2 separate regions of the Homo sapiens genome follow, and region 1 is linked to region 2. The links come from fine-mapping of genetic effects on gene expression. A gene starts in region 2. The other region holds a variant in brackets. All regions are shown on one strand. Distances are between the middles of the regions. Region 1 overlaps ARHGAP18 (Rho GTPase activating protein 18). Region 2 holds the start of ARHGAP18 (Rho GTPase activating protein 18).

Region 1 (10,581 bases), 120 kb after region 2:
TTCCTCTGTTTTACACTTATTTTGAGCTTGTTTTGACAGCTTATCAGAGGATGGAAGTGGATGAGAGGCTTCGTTGATTAGGTGCTCATTTTCCAATGAAATTTATAATTTTTCAGGAGGCATCTTATAAGCATTTAGGAAAAAATGACCTAAAGGAATTCCAAGCAAAATTATAATATTGAATATTTCAATCTCTTATTTGAGGAGCTTCCAAACATTAATTTGTTAAAAAGACAGAGTGATGATATTTAGATCCTGAAGTCTTTATTTTTATAATCCATAAAAAGACAACTGATGTAGATGATTTCAAATGTGTTTTTTTAATAAAAAATTAATGTCCATTTATTAAATCTCAATGTTTGAAATGTCAAAATTATTTCATGGTTACATTTTGATACCTTAAAATATTTTGTTTTTGCTAATGTGATTTCTTAGGATAAATTTGTTCTGGATTTTTGCTAGCTACCTATCAGCTCTTGTTTCTTGGGGAGTTCTTTCTCTCATGACAGCAGCGGCTAGCTGGTTATTAGAAGGGGACTTGAGGTTAGCTAGCAGGGCTGTAGGTAGGAGGCTGCAAAAGGAAAGACCTACGGAGGTGGCTTCTACTGCTCGTCACCTCAGGGGGTCTCCAGTCTGGCATAGAAAACGGCCACTATGTCCTTGAACTTCACAAAGCCTCTTTTGGAACCTTCCACAGTGGGTGGCAAATTATACCACGTGGATGCCCTGTACACCTGGTAAGTGAATAATATGAAGTATTTTCTTTTCACAGATTTAATGAATAGTGCATGTAAAATGGCAGTCTTATCAAAAAGAGAAACTCTTTACTGTTTTTGAAATTTAAAAAAATATAATTTTTTTTTGTAGTTTAAAATGGTGGCATTTCTTTTTCCTCTCTAAGCTTAATTCCTTTTCTCTATAGATTCCCAAGTTTATTGTAAACCAAGTGAGGAAGCAAAACACGGAAAATCATAAAAAGGATAAAAGAGCCATGAAGAAATTGCTGAAGAAAATGGCTTATGACCGAGAAAAATATGAAAAGCAAGATAAGAGTACAAATGATGTAAGAAAATAGTGGAGATATGTATTTATTCAGATCTTAAGTATTTTTTTAATACCAAAATTTTTTATTTAATGTTTTCATAGTATGACTTTCTGCCACTTATTAGGCTGTGGTGCTACTTGTAAGTGAAAGACATCAGTAACTGTCTTCCTACTACTGCTGCTAATGATCAGTATTGACAGTTGGTCAGGTGTTGGTGACTCAGCATGTGAGTTGTTAATGGGGAACAAAGGAAGATATCAAGACAAGACTGAACACACACACACACACACACCCCTACACCCCTACCCCTACCTCTACCTCTCGTGCGGAGACTCTAGTCGCCTACTGAATATATAATCTATAGTGAGTAAATAACATCATGTGAACCACTGACATTTTTTTCTAAATTTTTCTCATCTGTAGAATGGGGAAAAATAACTAATCCAGATGGACAAATAGGTTAATGTTTGTGTTGTGCCTAGGATTATTCCTGGACTTTAATAAGTATTTGAAGGTTCTCAATTTGATCAGAAGAATTTTGAGAGCTAAATTGGAAAGAAAAAAATTAAGATGTTTCAAAAAAGAAATACCTAAATATCTGTATTTATAAACTACTGTAAGAGTATATTAAGAACTGGGTTTACAATAATAAAATATACATGGATATACATTTATGAAGTAAGTTACCAAAGCTGTAGCGTAAGTTCATGAAATGAAAGGGTTTCTATTGTTCTATTTAAGTGAATCCACCTCCTCCCTACTACCACCACCATTGAAGTTGTTCAGTTACATGCTGACATCTTGTGGAATAATGTGAAAATGCAGTTATCTGCCTTTGTCTGAATTTTCGGTTTTGGCCTGCTTATGGATCCAGTAATCATAAAAACGAAGTTTTTCTCTTAGATTTATTTATAGCTCTCACTCTTAAAAAATGATACTTTCTTGGCATTGTAAAACATTTTAAATCAAGTTTTAAATATCTTTAAAAACATAAAGAGAAGTTGTAAATATGCTTATTTTTTTAGAAAGGCCTTGATATTATCCTAAAGGCTTTTAGAAAGCCTTTTTTTTTGGCATTTGGTTAACTTTAGAATGTTCTGTTACCTCTAAGACCATTGTAAATATGTGAATTAAGTCTGTTTTGTAGCCCTTCTTATTCATATTAAGTGACTTTATAGTCTTGTCTTTTTATAGGGCATTTAGCTGTGATATTCTGAAGCTCAGGATCTACTTAAGGAAACATTTGGGGTGTACCTTTTAAATAATATTTAGAAAAACTGAAACGTTTACTTTTTGGAAATGGAATATTTTAGTAATTTTGTCATTTATGGAAAAAAAAGCATTAACTTCTTTAGTTTGCACTTTGGCATAGTTAGACATGATCTGGTCTGAGAATGATCTCTGTACTATTTAAAAACTGTATTGTCATTTTAAAGCTTGGGATTTAAATATCAGTTTCATCACATATTAGCTGTAACTTTACCTCTTTGAGTTTTTTTTTTTCTTTCCTTATGTGAAATTCAGTTACTCATCAACAAAATGCTATTGCCACCTTGGTGCTAGGCCCCCACTTTATGTTAGGTGTTCCCAGGGAGTCAGGGAGCTGGGTGCTCACCCTCGAGGAGCCAGGAGAAGGCATATAGAAGGGATGTAGCTCAGAGGTATGTGATTGAAGCCTGACCAGGGTACCGTAATCTACAAAACAGGAAGTAAGCATGAGAGAGGCTTCACTGGGGAGTCAAGCTGAGATGTGAAAAATAAATCAGTGTTGTTCAGGTGTCACTAGAGAAGAGCCATCTAACCTGCAGTGGAAGCTTTCTGACATCACAGCCCATGGTGGAGGTCTGTTTGGCCTGTCATTTTGGTAGAAAAATTCTCATCTCCAGCCTGGCCAAGACAGTGGAACCTCATCTCTGCTAAAAATATAAAAATTGGCTGGACGTGGTAGCACACACCTGTAGTCCAGCTACTTGAGAAGCTAAGGCAGGAGAATCGCTTGAACCTGGGAGGCAGTGAGCCAAGATTGCGCCACTGCACTCCAGTTTGGGTGACAGAGTGAGACTTCATCTCAAAAAAAAAAAAAAATTCTAATCAATAGCCAAAATTTAAAAAAAAAATTATGCCATTTTATTAGGGAGAGTAAATAGACACACAAAGCAATTACAGAACAAGTAGAGGTGCAAGCTAAGTTCAAATACTGTGGATATGTGGTAAGTTACTAAGTAACAAGAGTTTTTTGCATGTTGCTTCCAACTGGCAACTGCCAGAATTCTAAAGCTAAAACATTTAATGTGAAAGTTTGAACCACCGTCTTAATGACAAATGGATGTTGGGGCATCCCTCATCTTCTGGCAGTAAGAGGCCTGCTTTCCATCAGGGTAGCAATTCCCTGGATTTGAGTAGGAGCCGTTCCTTTTGCATGGAACATGGACCATCTACTTTGCTGTAAGCCATGCCCCCTCCTTCATTCTGTCTGGTTGCTGTAGTTTCTTGACTCTCCTCCAAATCATTTAAATATGCAATATGAAACTATAGGGCATGAAATTGCCTGGGGGTAGCTTTTGTCATTTGTTAAACAGTTACTTGATATGTGCCTACTGTGTGCCAGGAATTACTGGGTACTTGAAATATAAATTATTGGACAAAACATACAAAGATCACTGCTCTTCCAGAGCTTAAATTCTAAAAATAAAAGTAAATCTAGGAAGTAATTCATATAATGTGTTAGTATGTGATTTATCCTCCAAAAGTAATAAAAACAACAGAACAAGGGGAATTGGGAAGGAGATCCCCTGGCACTATTAAGTTGAGATGGTCTGGATATTATTCATTTAAGCAAAGACAAGAAGAAGGGCAGGGAGTTGAGTTGTGTGTATATCTCAGGAAACTCAGTCCAGGCAGAAAGAATAGTCTGTGAAAAAACCTTAAGACAGGAACTTACCTTAAGGAGTGAGTGTAGCTGGAGTGAAGCCAGCAGAGGGAACGGTAGTGTGAAATGAGGTCAGAGGGGCAATGGGGCAAGATTGCATAGGGCCTTGTAGATAGACCATCATTAGAAATTTGGATTTACTCTGAGTGAAATGGGGGTTTGAAGCAAAGGCTTGAAAATCTATACTATGTTTTAAAATGATTCCTTAGGCTGTTGTGTTGAGAATAGACTAAAAGGGAGCAAAGAAAAATAGGGAGATCATTTGGGAGGTTCTTGTAATCCAGGTAAGAGATAATGGTGGTTCAGACCAGGGTATCAGCATCGGAAAGTGGAGAAATGGTTGGATTCTGGATTTTGTTTTGAAGTTAGAGCCATTGAGATTTCCTGATGGAAATCATGTAGGAGAACAAAAGAGGTCAAAAATGACTCTGATTTTTGGCCTGAGAAATTGGAAGGATGGTATTGCTTTCAATTTCATGATTTCAATTTAGGACATATTGAGTATGATGTCTATTGGACATTTAAGTGGGGATATTTGAAATGTTTGGAGAGAAAATCAGGTCATACTAACTGGCCACTTAGGTGCATAGAGAGACAGGGGCAGAGGGAAAGCAGGAGTGAGCCTTAAGAGAGATTGATAGCAAAGTTTCTATTCTGTGCATGACAGGGAACTGCTGAAAGGTGAAGGAAAGATTTGAGGGAGTGTAAGATTGGAGGGTAGGTAGGAGATGGTAGGTAATTTCCTTGTTGATGGGAGTATATAAATTGGTAGAGTTCTTCCAGAGAACAGCAGCATGTGGCAAAGTCCTGAAAGCCATGCTCTTCACTGGACTCAGATATTCCTCCAAAGAGAGTAATAGCATGAACATGCAAATATTTATGGTTAAGTTCATTGCCATTTTCTTACACTGACCAAAATTAGAGATAATCCAAAAGAACAGAGGTGGCTAGTTAAATACATTATGGCATATCTATACAGCGAAATACCATGAAAGTGTACAAATGTGTATCTTGACATTGAAGAGATTCGTAATATGTTACTATGTGATAAAAGAAGTTACGAGTCAGTGAATGGTGTAGTGCTATATTTTTAGGGGGTAATAGCTATGATTTTAATGCTTTGCAGAGGTCAGACACAATGCTAAACATTTTACAAATATTGTCTCGTAATATTTATGGTAGTCTAATTGGGGTGTATTATTGTCTAATTTTTTTCAGATGAGGAAAGTGAGAATTAGCAATCTTAAAGTTACTAAGGTTATCTAGATAGGAATTAGTGGAGCTGGAATTTGAAACCAAATCTATATGACTTTAAATCCATGGACTCTTCACCATTATTCTCTGTTTCTCCATAGATCACAGAAGGACTCTAAGAAGGATATATACCAAAACTCTGGGCTTATGGGTGGTAATACAATGAACATGGATTACTGCTGTTATAAAATATGTTTTATATGTAGTTCTTAAAATGGTCCTGGGCTAGAGCCAAGGCCCAGTTGAGAATCGAAAGAAGTTTAGAATGTGAGCCAATAGGAACCCTGCAACATGTGGATACTGGTTGGATGTGAAGAATGTGGAAGAAGAAGGGAATCTAGAATGACTTGCCAAATTTGGCCTTGGGTGACTTTAGCATCAAGCAAAAGGGGGACAGACTTAAAAGTGAGTTTTTGACACTTTGGGTTAACGTGCCTGTGTGAGTCGGCTACAGGGGCCTGAATTTCAAGGAGCATCCAGCATTGGAGGCACACCTTTGGGATTAGCCTAGAGATTGTTGTTGAAGTCATAGAGTGGTTCATATTACACAAGGTGGATATATGGAGTAAGAAAATAAAGAGACAAAGAGAGATCTCTAGGGGATTCCAATGTTTAAGTATGGGCCATTCAAGAAGAGCTGGTGAAGGAGGCTAGGAAATAATAGGAAGTAAGAGAAAGTTGAAGGATGTATATTTTCTCTGAAGCCCAGGCAGGAAGAGTAAAGTAAGTAAAAAGAGCTTGGTTAGTAGTGCCAAATGCTGCAGAGAGACTGAGTAAGGTTAACACTG[A/G]ACAAAGGTTTTTGAATTTGAAGGTTAATTATTACTTTCCCCAAAGCATTGTCAATGGTAATTTATGGAAAAAGCTAGATTGCCAGGGATTGGAGAGTGAAAGAGACTATAGATCATAAACATTCTTCAAGGTAATATTTTTAAGAGGCTTTGACTCAATGCAGTGGCATGCACCTGTAGTCCCAGCTACTTGGGAGGCTGAACAGGAGGATCACTTGAGCCTAAGAGTTAGATGCCAGCCTGGGTAAAACAGTGACACCCCTGTTAAAAAAATAATAATTTTGTATGCTATTAAAACTAACCGTTTATAATTGGGCATTTGTATTATTAAGACGTGCTAGACTACACTAGTTAATTAATAATTTGAGCCAGGTTTTAAGATGTACTCAATTTACCTCATGAGGCAAATGTTTTTAGTGACTACAGCATACTGAGTGTTTGGTCCAAATGTAGATGTTCTTAAATACTAGTATGTCTTATCCATTAATTATAGTAGGAAGAAACAGTTGGAGGAAAAATAAGAAAATTGTAGACCATTAATAATAATCATTTTCTGATAGGCTTTAACTTGTCGGGATTGATAACACACACATCTACACCCACACATACACCTCAGAAGTCATGTGGCCTGAGGATATAGCCCCAGCTCTGCCACGAGTGAGTGTGACAAGTCATTTTACCTCTGTGGGCTTCAGTTTCTTTTATAAAATGATAGGGTAGGATCAGGTTAATGGTGTTTAACCAGAAGTTCACAATAGTGGCATCTGTAATATTTAATTTTTTAAAGGTTTGTTTATTTTTGGAGATAAGGTCTTGCTTTTTCACCCAGGCTGAAGTGCAATGGTGCAATCATGGCTCATTGTAACCTCAAAGTTGCAGGCTCAAGGGATCCTCCCACCTCAGCCTCATGAGTAGCTGGGACTACAGGCATGCATCACCATGCCTGGTTAATTTTTAAACTATTTTGTAGAGACAGGGTCTTGCTACGTTACACAGGCTGGTCTCGAACTCCTGGCATGAAGCGATCCTCCCTCCTCAGCCTTTCACACCTGAGATTACAGGTGTAAGCCACTGCACCTGGCCTGGTAATATTATTTTAGAACAAAACAAAAAGCAAACCGTGATTGGGTGACTCGCTAGACCCACTGAGTCAGACTCTCCCAGGGCAGGACTTGGGCGTGTGTATCGTCTAAAAGCTGGAAGGGTAATTCCCTCTTCCTATTGGTGTGTTTGTGTGTGTGTATGCATATGTATATTTAATTTTATCATGAAACTTTTTAAACACATACGAGTAGAAAGAATAGTACATGAGCCCCCCAAAACCTTTATCATCAACAATCGAACACATTTTTCTGATCTTGTTGCATCCTGTCTCCCACATGTTTTTTCCTTTTAGAATTTTAAAGGATATCTTATAATTACCTCAGATTGCATCTCTGCCTACTAAGAATGTAGGGGGCAGCTTTGATGAACAATTGGTTGTGATTTGTTGACTCATCCAGGCCTCAGGGTTATTGTGACTTAGGTTTGTATGATGTTTCTTCTGCCATTCAAGCTCACCTCTCAAAGGGAGGCTGTTCATTTATGAGAGTGAGGGTACAGAGTGGCTGTATGAGATTCTGTCCAAAATGCCATGCTGCTCACCACTTCTGACCTCATAGGTCAAGGAAACAAAAGGCTTTCTCTCATAGGGTTAATGTTAGTGTTAACTTGGGACATGCTAGTATCACACCCTTAATTTACCAGGGAGGAACTCAAGCTTTAGAGAGCTTACGTGACTTGCTGAAAGTTCCAGAATAATGTTGTCACATTTTAAAGTGTAGGGCTATGGATGTGAAAAAGAAATCTGTTGCTACCACTGGAAGAATCCTGGCATTGGCAGCAGTGCGGTGTAGATGCTGAGTTGTTTGTGGCCAGGGTTGCGTGCCTTTATGCACAACTCTGTTTAGAATTGCATCTCTGATTTCATTTAACAGTTCTTGCTGCAAAGCATTGTTGCAGGTATTGTTTCAAGCATCTGCTTTAGGTCTGGAAATAGTGGCTGGATTTACTTGGGGACCCAAGTGGAAAATCAGATTACAATATCAAGCACAAAATCTTATTTCTTTTTATGACATTCCCTGATTTTTAATACTGCATAAAAATACCACATTAAAAAAAAATATTAGAACTTATGTCATTGGAAATTAAATTCTTATTAACTATGGAAGTTATTTTAAGCCTTTCTTTAAAATCCTCTGAATCTGTGAGTTGGATAAAAGTTTAAGGCATTTGGATAACAAAGATCCAATTATAATTAGCACATAGTTCAAGATAGTAGCGAATTCCTTTTATATCACCACTTCCCAGTATTGTCAGTTCAGACTAGGGTGATGAATATACCATTTTAGTTTAAGATACCTTGCTAAAATGTCCCTGTTTAATTTTCTAAAATATGTGTTATATCTGGCCTTCTTTTTGAAAAAGCTGTATTTCCAATTTGCCCTTTTGAAGATAAAAAGGGTTTTCTGTAGCATAAAAAATGTCAGCTTTACATTTAAATTAGCTTTTAATGAAAAAGAAAGAGACCTCTTTTACCGGTCTGACATTAAATTTCTAATCTCTAGAGTGCAAAAATATGAGCAATGCAGTGTTTTTAGATACCTTATGAAAAAATGCTAAAATTGTTATTTAACCAGATAATAATAAAATCAGGTTTAGAAATATAAACTTCAGTTCAATATGTAAAACATGTGAAGACCATATGAGGTCATTTTCTCTATTTTAATAATCTTAGCATGCATAAGAAATTAACACTCTTGAAGTTGTAAAATCCTTTGTGACTTTTCTTTGATGGAGTGTTAGTCAAATACTGCCCTTCTCCAGTCCTGCTGTACCTCACATAACTGCAGTTCACAAGCACGCTCCTCCCCTATCTCAATGGGAAAAAAAAGCAGGAGACAGAGTGACAATTTTAGATTAAAACATGTGAAAGAGAAGGGTTATAAAGATCATACTGTGTACAGATTCAGTTATTATTATGGCTCAAGTTAAGAACAGACTGGCTTAACGATCAGGCATGTTGTATCTTTTCAAAGCTTGGCAACTCAATGTAATTAGTATAGTAATAACTTCAGTATTCGATACAGCATGATTCTAGTACTTAATAGTGGTTTTCATACACCATTTAAATGATGGCTTTGGCATAATTTATTGTTTATCATCTTTGTAAATATCATTTGGCCTTCCTTGTCAAGATATCCAGCAAAAACTTCCCAGAAACAACTTTAACTCTTTAGCTTTACCATTATATATACTGGTTAAACTCGTTTCTTCTTCAGGGATAAAGAGCATTGTATATCCATATTGAGTCAAACTCTCAATCTCTGTATTGTTGTAAGAATTTGGATGGGATGAATCACTACAGAAATAAACAAGCTGAGAAATGTTCATATCCCATAGACACACAAACCACACACACACTCTCTCTCCCTGCCGTAGAATACAGGTTCTCTAGTGGTCAGAGAATGTCAGCCTAGGAAGGTTTAATGAAAACCATGTACCATTGTTGGTTTAATGAAATGCTTTCCAAGGATATTGATATTCCAGCTCTTTGTGAAATGAGTCAAAATGACTACCGTTTGTAGCTTGGGAAGGGTTCTTGCTGAGCTCAAAGGTGGCTTAACCTCATCCTCTGCTCATTGAGGGAAAGGGATGTGGGAAATGTTTTTATTTCATAGCCAGAAGGAATCTGTAGGAGAGTACTCATGCTGCTTCCCATCTTGGCAAAAACCAGCCTGTGTACCCCATAATATGTCAATTACCTAACATTACACATATACGTGAAAACTCCCAATTGCCCCCAGAAGCTAGTATCTTGGGACTCTCTATTAAAACTCTTAACTATCAGAAAGATCCTAGATTCCTGGGTCAGATGTGGTGCTTTCTGTGCAAGTCCTTTTACCACCCTGAACTCAACACCTCATTTCATAAGGAAGCATGGCATGGTCATACTCCCCAAAGCTATGGTACCTGAGCTCATTTAGAAAGCATTAAGTTGTCACTCAATATTGAGGGTCAACTTGATTGGATTAAAGGATGCAAAATATTGTTCCTGGGTGTGTCTGTGAGGGTGTTGCCAAAGAAGATTAATATTTGGGTCAATGGACTGGGAGAGGCTTGGTGGGCACCATCTAATCAGCTGCCAGCATGGCTAGAATAAAAGCAGGCAGAAGAAAGTGGAAAGAACAGACTTGCTGAGTCCTCTGGCCTTCATCTTTTTCCTGGCTGGATGCTTCCTGCTCTGGAACATTGGACTCCAAGTTCTTCAATGTTTGGACCCTTGGACTTACACCAATGGTTTACCAGGGGCTGTCTGACCTTCAGCCACAGACTGAAGGCTGCACTGTCAGCTTCCCCACTTTTGAGGTTTTGGGACTCGAACTGGCTTCCTTGCTCCTCAGCTTGCAGATGGCCTATTGTGGGACTTCACCTTGTGATCGTGTGAGTCAATACTCCTTAATAAACTCATCTATGCTATGAGTTCTGTCCTTTTCAAGAACCACGACTAATACAGATATTGGTAC
Region 2 (10,581 bases):
AACTTTGTTATTCATATGATTCTTTTCAGAAATAAAATGATGTCAATTCTAGGACTGCTGTAACCTTTATAATGCTTAAGAGCTCAGGCTCCAAGGTCACATAAACCCAGGTTTACATGTCCTGGTTCTGCCACCTACTAACTGGATGACCTCATATTCCTCATCTCTAAAGTGAGCGTAATTCCAATTTCTATCCCTGGTGGTGATTGTGATGATTAAATGATAGACCATGTATACCATGTCTAGCGAAGAGTAAGGACTCAATATTAGCTATTGTTATTTATTGGTAATAAACTATTTGTAAGAAACATCTTTTCTAAATGATTGCCGAAAAGCCTAAATTAGCCTCTGGCAATAGCAGTTACAAATTATCCCAAGCATGGCTAGTATTTTCTCGCAGGAGGAGCAGTTAAGAAAATAACTTTGAGAATAACGTAGACATTTTTAGAGCTGTCCAGAGAAAGGGAAAAGGGTTATTTCTTGTTGTTCCAGAGACAGAATTAATAACAATGAGTGTAATTCCCAAGGAAATAGTTTGAGATTCTGTATATGGAATAATTTTCAGTCATAGTACCCTAGCACAGAGGTAGCTAACTTTGTAAGCTGACAAGAACTATTCCTACGAGGTCCTGATAAAACATGAGGTAAGGGATGTTAAGAACTCTTCCTCTTCATTAGTCAATCCTGCTTCATATGTCTAGCCTTTATCACCTATGTAAAACTTTAACTTCACAGTTGATTAATTTATTCAAGTTCTTGTTATAATATTGAAAATTGGGTTTAATTTTACCATTTGGAAGGTCATTTTCACATGGCTTTTGTCCCTATGTAGATTTTCATCATCATATAGAGATTGTGTGTACATATTCTCCTTTAATTCTTTTTTTTTTTTTAAGAGAACTAGACCAATTCAGGAAAAATTTGATAAATTATATGCTGATTCCATTGCATGGCACTCTTCTAATACAATTCCTTCTAATACTAAATAGGCTCCTAAATCAACATATAAAAACCAGCTAATAAACTCTTTGCTACCACTAGCACTGAACTGAAGAAAAATTTTTTCATTGTTTTTGAACATGGGTGTCAAATTGTCAGAGACTGCAGTACCATCTTCACCCTATTTTTAACAACCTATTTGGGTACATAAATTACCGCTTCCTTTTCCTTTCCTGTGTCATCTAGTACACCTCATTTAAACAGAATGAATGAAATGAATGTTTAAACTGTCTTGATGTTGTTAATTACTTTTTAAGATGTTTCATAACAGGAAAGTGTTTGGCACGCACTCAATAGCTGGGAATATTAACATCTTCAAGGTCATGAGGTTCTCAGTGTGTGTTTAAAATGGTTGCGGAAAGGAGTAAAAAAGTGTTTTGTTTTTTTTCATAATATTTGTCTCTGCAAAAGAGCGATAATGGTATAAGGGATGGACATGAGCTAAACCTTAGTACAGTTTACAGTGTGAAATAAGAACAGGTTTTTTTTTTTGTTTTTGTTTTTGTCGTTGTTTTTCTTTTTTTCTTTTTCTTTTTTTTTTTTTTTTTTGAGACGGAGTCTCGCTCTGTCTCCCAGGCTGGAGTGCAGTGGTATGATCTCGGCTCACTGCAACCTCCGCCTCCTGGGTTCAAGCAATTCTCCTGTCTCAGCCTCCTGAGTAGCTGGGATTACAGGTGCCCACCACCACGCCACCCGGCTAATTTTTGTATTTTTTAGTAGAGACGGGGTTTCACCATGTTGGCCAGGCTGGTCCTGAGCTCCTGACCTCAGGTGATCCACCTACCTTGGCCTCCCAAAGAACAGCTTTTTAAGAGACCACACTGGTAGTTAGGTTTGCTTCTTTGATGACATGGGAAAATTCTGAAAACTGTTTTTAATCTACTTGAGCATGTATCTGAGGCTATGAACACCAGGCCACAGTCCTACCAGCTCTCTGCCTGTGATAGGTAATACCCTTCGACCAGTAGCAACAGGGCTTGGTGGGAGGAAAGGAGAAAAAGCTCAGAGGATTTTCAGGTATTTGAGAGCTAAATTAGAAGGATTCAAATTTTATGTACTAAGCTATGTAAATCAATTTGTATCACATTTGGTTTTCTGCCTCACAGAAATTAAAAACGGTGGATATTGCAAACCCAAATATTATTTTGACATTGTAAAACAATTACATTTCAACCTGTACATTGTGATTTGTTATTAAACAAGTGAAAAGACCATAATTAGGCAAAAATATAACTAAATAATTGTTTTGGCTATAACTGGACAAAATCTTCATCGCAAACTGTCACATGAGAGATGCAGTGCCCGTGGCTGCCAATGGGCATGGATGACATTGACAGGCTAAAGACATAGCAAAGGAAGAAGGAAAACTAGAAAAAAAAGGAAGATAATAAAAAGGGAGGTAGAGGGAAGTAAGGGGGGAGAAAAAGGTGGGAGGGAAACAGAAAAGAATTTCCAAAAGATAATGTAGTGATTACCATCAATAATTGTATAAGATAGTGATTCCCATATGTTTGCATTTCAGAGTAGCTACATAAAAAAGGAGGGGTGGATGAGCTGGTTATTAACATTTTTTCCATGTAAGGACACTGAAAAGACAAAACACATATATTCTAATTTACTTTAATCTTTGCCTCCCTCTCTTTATAGTTTTTGTTTTGCCTGAACTGATGAACATTTCCTCATAGGTTAGCACTGGTATGTGCATGGGAACCGCTTATCTAATATTACCAATTTTAATATAAAGATTTAGTAGAGTTGGCCGGGCGCGGTGGCTCATGCCTGTAATCCCAGCACTTTGGGAGGCCGAGGTGGGCGGATCACCTGAGTTCGGGAGTTCAAGACCAGCCTGACCAACATGGAGAAACCCAGTCTCTACTAAAAATACAAAATTAGCCAGCGTCGTGACACATGCCTGTAATCCCAGCTACTCGGGAGACTGAGGCAGGAGAATCGCTTGAACCTGGGAGGTGGAGATTGTGGTGAGCCGAGATCATGCCATTGCACTCCAGCCTGGGCAACAAGAGCGAAACTCTGTCTCAAAAAAAAAAAAAAATTTAGTAGAGTTTTAAAGGATACTTTCAATTCATTCAGGTTTTCCTCCATTCAGTGTTTACTGAAGGCTCAGTAGGTACAAAATTTAAGTTAGCTGTCAGATGAAGAGAAAAGAATCATAGTAGGACCTGAAAAGATTGTGTCTAGCAGATGGAAAGACTTGTATGTATAAGGTAGCAGGAATGCCCAGTGATCTGCTCAAAAGCCTGGAACTGGCTCTGTTAGCAATAGAGAGCCAATGAAGGTTTTTAAGCGAGGAGAGGGATCATGAGTGCCAGGGTGTGATCATAATGTCAAAGCAATTTAAAGGAGGTGACAGGGAGATGAGCTAAAAGGGCTGTTGTAATATTGGAGCTAAGACTGCATTATAGGATCCAGAGGTGGTTGAGGTCATGGGGATAAAAAGGAGACAGCAAGTAAAGTCCTATGGAAGTGGAAATGGGAAGGTTGAGCAGTTGTGCAGGGGGGAGGGAGGAAGATATAAATTCCTTTTAAGGAAGACTTTTGTAAATTATAAGAAAGAGGGTTCAAAAATAAATTTCAGATACTTCTAGAGTATGTAAGGAGGAAGAAATTATTTTTCATGACTGTTTTAAATAATGATAAGGTATAAGCAATAAGTTTATGTAATGATGGAATTGGAAACTTGTTCAAGAGGAATTCTAGAGAGTTGAATGAATCATAAAAATCTAAAAAAACCTTCAGACTACTGGGTATGTCAGAGTAGAAGCCAGGCGTGGTGGCTCATGCCTGTAATCTCAATACTTTGGGAGCTTGAGCCAAGAGGATTGCTTGAGCCCAGGAGTTCAAGACCAGCCTGGGCAACACAGTGAGACCCTCCCTCTCCACAAAGCATAAAAAAATTAGCTGGGCGTGGTAGTGCATGCCTGTGGTCTTAGCTATTGGGGAGGCTGAGGCTGGAGGATTTCTTGAGCCTGGGAGGTTGAGGCTGCAGTGAGTTACAATCACCACTGTACTCCAGCCTGGGTGACAGAGTGAGACCCTGATTCAAAAACAAACCAAAAAAGTGATTTTTTTTTTTGGAGGGGAGATGGGGAGAAAGAACAGAGCTGTCTTTTGTGTTTATGATAATTTTGATCTTGTTTCTTAATCTGCAAAACAAAGAAGAGCATACTGGTGAAAAATAAAAGGAATGTAGCCTAGAATTCTGTTCAAATCCAGCTTCTGGCACTAGCAACTGTGTTATCTTAGTGAAGTTACTTAACTCGTCCCTCAGCCTTACTTTCCTTGTGTTATGTATAACACAGATGATAGTGATACCTATCTTGTACGGTGTGTGTGTGTGTGTGAGAGAGAGAGAATTGAATGGAATGAGATAATACATGTGAAACCCCCGTCCATGAGAGCTTGGCATATAGTAGGTGCTCAACAAATGGCAGGGACTTCTCTTGTTCTCAGCAATAACACTTAACAGAGCATTGGTAGGTCTATCCCTTTTTGGTGCTGAAAAATATTTTGCTAAAACAAGACGTATATTTGAGATTGGCTTTATGTGAAAGACGACGACATTCCAGGACACACAATTTTTATGAGGGCATTTTTAACCGGACACAAGGATCAAGCCTTTCTCGTCGTCTGGATTGCAGAGTTTTGCCGCGGGTTCGTTGTTTTTTACTATGGCTAATTTTAACGCTGAACATGAAGGGGTTAAGAAATGCCTTTACTCATGTTACATTAAGTAGCAGAAATTATAAGATAGAGGAATTGGGGAGGGAAAAAAAAAAGCCTTGGCAGCAACTCATGGTTTCCTAAGTAAGACGGCTTGTAGTTACAGTGATGAGTTGAATATACGTTCTGGCAGTTTAATCTGATCAGACTAACTTGGGGGTGGGTGCAACCCGTCGCTTCCACCCTTCGCCTCCTTTAACCAAAGCCGCCCAGAGTGCAATTGTCCAGAGTTGAAACCATGCTGTGAGTTGCAGCTTCTAATTGGAGAGGCAGGAAGCCCTTCCCTGGACAGACCCCGCCCCTCCCCGTGTGAATCGCCAGCCTGCGGGGAGGAGCTGGCCAATGCTAATGAGCGAGTTGCCAGGCGAGACAGGAACTTCTTTCCCCTTCTCTGTGTCAGGATCGCAGAAAGTATGTCCCTTCTCTCACCATGAGCTGGCTCTCCAGTTCCCAGGGAGTGGTACTAACAGCCTACCACCCCAGCGGCAAGGACCAGACCGTCGGGAACAGCCATGCAAAGGCAGGGGAGGAAGCCACCTCGAGGTAAGCCTTCGGAAGCTGAAAACAAAACAAAACCCTCTTACCTGCTCCAGGAAGAAAGTGACAGGGAAGTTGGCGTGGGGAGAAGGGAATTCCATCTGCACGTCGAGCCTGAGCTCGTGCAGCAGCAGTAGCAACGTTTGGCGTGATTTTTATGTACTTTTCATCTCACCTAGTCCAAGTCTGAAATAACCCATATGATTACTGGTGAAGACAGAGAAGAAGGAACTGGGGAGAGGGCTATATGGGCTGTCAGACTAGCTATTTAGCAGGTGCATTTGCACATGCTGAAAGATCAAATAGGTCTATCTGAAACACTTCCTTTCCTATGAAATGGAATTCTTGAATGGGCTCAAGGCACTGCCACTGGAACTGTTCGCTGGGAAAGTCTGCCAAAAAGCAGGGAGGCTGTTCACTGTACTGTACAAGCTGTTGTTGTTAGAGTGTTTTTTTTCCCCCCTCTCTTTGCTGAAAGCAAACCTCTTAGGCAAAAAGCCCAAGACACTGGCCTGTGGCAATATGTTTCACATTCTTTTGTGTATGTGGATTTTTTTTCCCCCAGGCTTTCAAAAAGGAGTTTTTGTCAGGAGATAGCACTCTGCTGCTGGAGTGAAATGTGGTTAATGTTAAATCACTTTATAGGCAGAGAGGGCAAATGTTCTATAGACCACTGAGGCGCAAAGGGTACCTTTCTCCCTATCTGTGTACTTTGTTCCATTTTCCAAGGGCTTTTTTTTTTCTTTCTCTCCTTAATGACCTTCTCACTAGCTGAACATTTTTACCTCCATCAAGATATAAATAGTAAATATTGGCCTAGAAGATTGCAAGAAGCAAATACTAACCTAATAGCCTAGAACACTAAATTAGTTATCGGTAAGCACATTTCCTCCTCAATGCTTAATGTGATAATAAAACCTTCTTTGTTCTTATGTGACTTATGCCTGTGCCTTAAGCTGAAATAATGCTGCCTTTCATTTGTTTTAAAATCTCCAAATATGAGGGAGGGAGAAAAATCAAAGGAATGGCTGTAATACTCAGTGTTAGACTCCCAGCTGACGGGAACTGTTTCTCACATAGCATCCACAGTATGTATTTCATTGAATGAATTCATTTCCAAAGATAAAAAAGATTTGGTGCTTGTGCCTTAGCTGTGTTACCATTTCATTTTCCATCATTTTAAATGACTTAATGTTAAATCATTAAATCAAGAGATCTTGAAGTGTTTTCATCCATTTTTCTGTAATGTATTAGTAATCATTAAGCAGTAAAGCAGCCTGCAACACCAACCCCATACCCAGCCATAACTTGGATTCCACATGTCAGTCAAAATTGCCAAAATTATACAAGCTCAGGACATTCTCCGACTTTAGGCTGAATGGCCTGAGGACCTGAGCTGAATCTTGGATCTTGATTGTGAGAATGGAAAGGACCTTAAGGACTGAGTCCTAACCTCTCATTTTCACGTAGGACTCAAACCCCAGGGATTAGTTAAGTTTTTGGAAGGTCTGGAGTTCTAGGCCTTTGTCTGGGGCTGCATCTCCAGTTCTGGAGACTCATTATTCTGTGTTTGCAGTGTGGGTGGCCCATACTTGAGTGGGTTGAGAGAATAAGAGAGGATCAGATCATTCTCTGCCTAGGCTGAAGCAGAACCAAGAGGCACTAAGGTGGCAGGGTGGGCAGCTGCCCACACGGCAAGTGCCCTGTGTGGGGCCACAGCTCCAGGTGAGCTCCTTTGCTGGCTGTCACGTAGCCTGCCCATACCAGACCCAACTTCCCACCACTGAATTAGTTCTAGGGATCGTTCCTGATATTGACCGGAGAAGATGGGAGCCTGGTTTGAGGGCAGGGAGGAAGGAGGGAGTAGGGCTAGTTTTCAATGGCTTTTACCCTTAAGGGCTAACGAATCAGATAAACTTGTTGTTGTTTTGGGAGATACCCTGTTTAGCCTGAAAGGATTGAGATACTGTAATTGCTATGGGGGAGGGGATGGATAGAAGGAAGGAGGATTTGAAGGTGGGATGGGGTCCTCGGTGACCACCTAAGAATGGTGATAGTGGTTTCGGGGCGGTGAACTGGACTTTGGCTTTGGCTTTGGCTGGGTTGGTCAGGTGTTGTTTTAAGCCCTGGGAAGCTGCTCCAAGGTGCAAGGTTGATGGTTGATGCCTATTTAAAGAAGTTCTCCAAAAAGTAAAAACAAAACAAAACTCTTAAAAAGGCTACATTAGGCTGGGTGTGATGGCTCACACCTGTCATCTCAGCACTTTGGGAAGCTGAGGTGGGTGGATTGCTTGAGCTCAGGAGTTAGAGACCAGCCTGGGCAAAAAAAAGACCCCCGCCCCCACAGCTCTACCAAAAATACAAAAAAAAAAAAAAAAACAAGAAACCACAAACAAACTAGAAATGGTAGTGCATGCCCGTGGTCCCAGCTACTCAGGAGGCTGAAGTGTGAGGATCACTTGAGGCTGGTGGAGCAGAGATTGCAGTGAGCTGAGATCACGCCACTGCACTCCAGCCTGGGTGAGGGAGTGAGACCCTGTCTCAAAAAATAAATAAATAAATAAAAAATAAAAGCTAAATTAGATTCTGCATTTCCTCCTACCCATTTAAAAATTATAGAAGATAGCACGGAAGTATAACTTTTCTTATCACAAGATTTTGTCTGTAAGTAATATGTTCTTTGAAATATTTAATCCAATATTTAGTTCATGAGATGAATTCATGTCTTTATAATGCCATTTATACATATGTGTATGACTTAGCGTATTTATTGAAAATTGTTTCCTTTTTTTTTTCGAGATGGAGTTTTGTTCTTGTTGCTCAGGCTGGAGCACAATGGCGCACTCTTGGCTCACCACAACCTCTGCCTCCCAGGTTCAAGCTATTCTCCTGCCTCAGCCTCTATAGTAGCTGGGACCACAGGCATGCACCACCACGCCTGGCTAATTTTGTATTTTTTTTTTTTAGTGGAGTCGGGGTTTCTCCATGTTGGTCAGGCTGGTCTCGAACTCCCGACTTCAGGTGATCTGCCCACCTTGGCCCCCCAAAGTGCTGGGATTACAGGCATGAGCCACTGCGCCCAGCCTGAAAGTGTTTGATTTTTAGCCTAGCCATACCAAGTCTTTTTTTTTTTTTTTTTTTTTTGAGACAGAGTCTTACTCTGTCACCCAGGCTGGAATGCCGTGGCACGATCTGGGCTCACTGCAACCTCCGTCTCCAGGCTCAAGTGATTCTCCTGCTTCAGCCTCCCAAGCAGCTGGGATTACAGGCGAGTGCCACCACCCCTGGCTAATTTTTGTATTTTTAGTAGAGACGGGGTTTCACCATGTTGACCAGGCTGGTCTCGAACTCCTGACCTCAGATGATCTGCCCACCTCATCCTCCCAAAGTGCCGAGATTACAGGCATGAGCCACTGCACCCGGCTCCATGTCCTTTTTTATTACCATTTGGTCTTTTGAAAAGCTGAGATAGTAGGGAATTAATATTTTTGGAAGTAATTTGTTAGCTAAATTTTCTCCATTCCATTATCCCTCTTTATCAGAAAACAGTCATTGAATGTCAGATTAAGGAATTCCTCCCACTCCTGGTTAGAGCCTCTCCCTTTATAGAATCCTGTTTTTCTTTTGTATGTTTCCTCCTCAAAACATGAGGATTTGAAGAAATATGTTAACATTAGTTGTCATGGCCGACTTGTACACAGTTGAATGTTTCCAAAGGAAACCACTTTTTATGAGTAGCTATATTTATAAGACTTTGTTTACTTGTTTTTCAAGCAGGCTTCTTAATATTTAGTTTTGAAAAGAATTTTTTCGAAGAATATTGTGTTTTGTCTATTCTTACTGTTCTCTCTTACCTTCCCATTTTAAGAGAAATGGTTGTTTGCTTTGCATATTTTTTGCTAATATTTTAATATGAATGTCAAGTAACCTTTTTTATTGGGCCTTTTAATTCCTTAGCTAACTGAATGGACTGATGAGTGAGATATTTTTATGCCTTCTCTGAATAAATGTATGGCATTCATCATGTAAGGTCTTGTTGACCCAACTTGCCATTGGTATTGGGTAGGCAGAAACAAGAGGCACTACACAGGGGTGACATAAACCCAGAAACCCTGGGTTCTGGGGCCAACCTGTCTGGGGTCATATCCCAGCTCTCTCATTCATTAGCAGTGTGACCTTGGAGGAGTTATCTCTCTACCCATAAATTGAACTTCATAATATTACTCACCTGATTAAGACAACTGAGTGGGATGACCTCTGTCAAGCCCATAGAAGAGTGTCTGGTTTGTAGCTAGCTGCTACTTTCCTTAATACTAGGTAAAGAAAAGGAAAGAAAGGATTGAGTTTTGCAGGATATAGAATATTCTCCCTTGTTTCAGAAGCGTTTTTCTGAATATTATTTTGTCATGTGTTAAGAAACATGGGCATTATCCATATGCTTAAAAAATGACATATTTGAGAATGAACCATAATGTAAAAGTTTAGGCCTTTGAAGTTTGAAAGACCTTGGAAATATCATCCTGATCCATAGCACCATTTATGATTTGAACTGGTAACAATTGCCTATACCAGGCCTTTCTTGGGGGGTATTGATGGGCATTGAGGTCTGCAAATATTGACTCTATGGCAAGATAGAATGTGGGTGGATCCTCTTTTGGCAGCTGGACTCACTCCTGTCTCCATGCTTCCTTCCTCTGCTTTAAGAACTACTACTGCCCAGCATGCCAAATGGAAGAGGACTATCATCTTTATAAGCTTATCTCAGTTCTTGACTTGTTCATGTCTCACCCATTCCTTGGTTCTGCAAGCATAATCATTCAGTCATTCCACATATAAGAGCTCTCTCTTACTGTGTGTCAGGCAATTGTTTAAATACTGGGGTTGTAATGGGGGGAAATAAACCAGACAAACATCTGGGTGCAGGGAGGGTAGCCTGGAGGGGAAAATAAAGACCTGAGCAGGTGACAGGTGAGCCCCAAAATATCTGGGGGCAAGAATTAGAAGAAGAGTTTTTAAGGCAGATAGTGGGTAGAGAGTGTAGAAGCCATAAGCCTAGATAGAGTAAGTCTGAAACCAAGCACCCAGAGAGCAAAGAGCCCTGCATGACTGCAGGGGTCAGGATAAGGAGGAGGGAGGAAGAAGAAAGCAAGGTGGGAGTTGATAACCTTATAGAACATTTGAGGACTTGAGTTTTTGCTGAAAGTAAGATGGGAAGCCATTGAGGGAGTGGGTTTTGAGCAGTGGAGGAAGAGAGCACATTTAAAAGGTCCCTCTGGCTGTTATATTGATTATAGAGTGTAGAAG

The links.
Region 1: its variant is fine-mapped to the expression of ARHGAP18 in whole blood (INTERVAL, PIP 0.91).

Annotation. Positions count from the first base shown.
Region 1 is chr6:129,589,698-129,600,278 of GRCh38, reverse strand. ARHGAP18 (Rho GTPase activating protein 18) reads left to right here. Exons shown (of 15, transcript NM_033515.3): 12 at 923-1,063. Among named protein-coding and RNA genes, the nearest start is that of ARHGAP18, 120 kb to the left of the region's middle. RefSeq lists an enhancer at 1,121-1,415. The variant A/G (reference allele first, on the strand shown) is at 6,017.
Region 2 is chr6:129,704,726-129,715,306 of GRCh38, reverse strand. ARHGAP18 (Rho GTPase activating protein 18) reads left to right here and starts at 5,130. Exons shown (of 15, transcript NM_033515.3): 1 at 5,130-5,283. The coding sequence starts at 5,171. RefSeq lists a silencer at 4,777-4,856 and an enhancer at 10,533-10,581.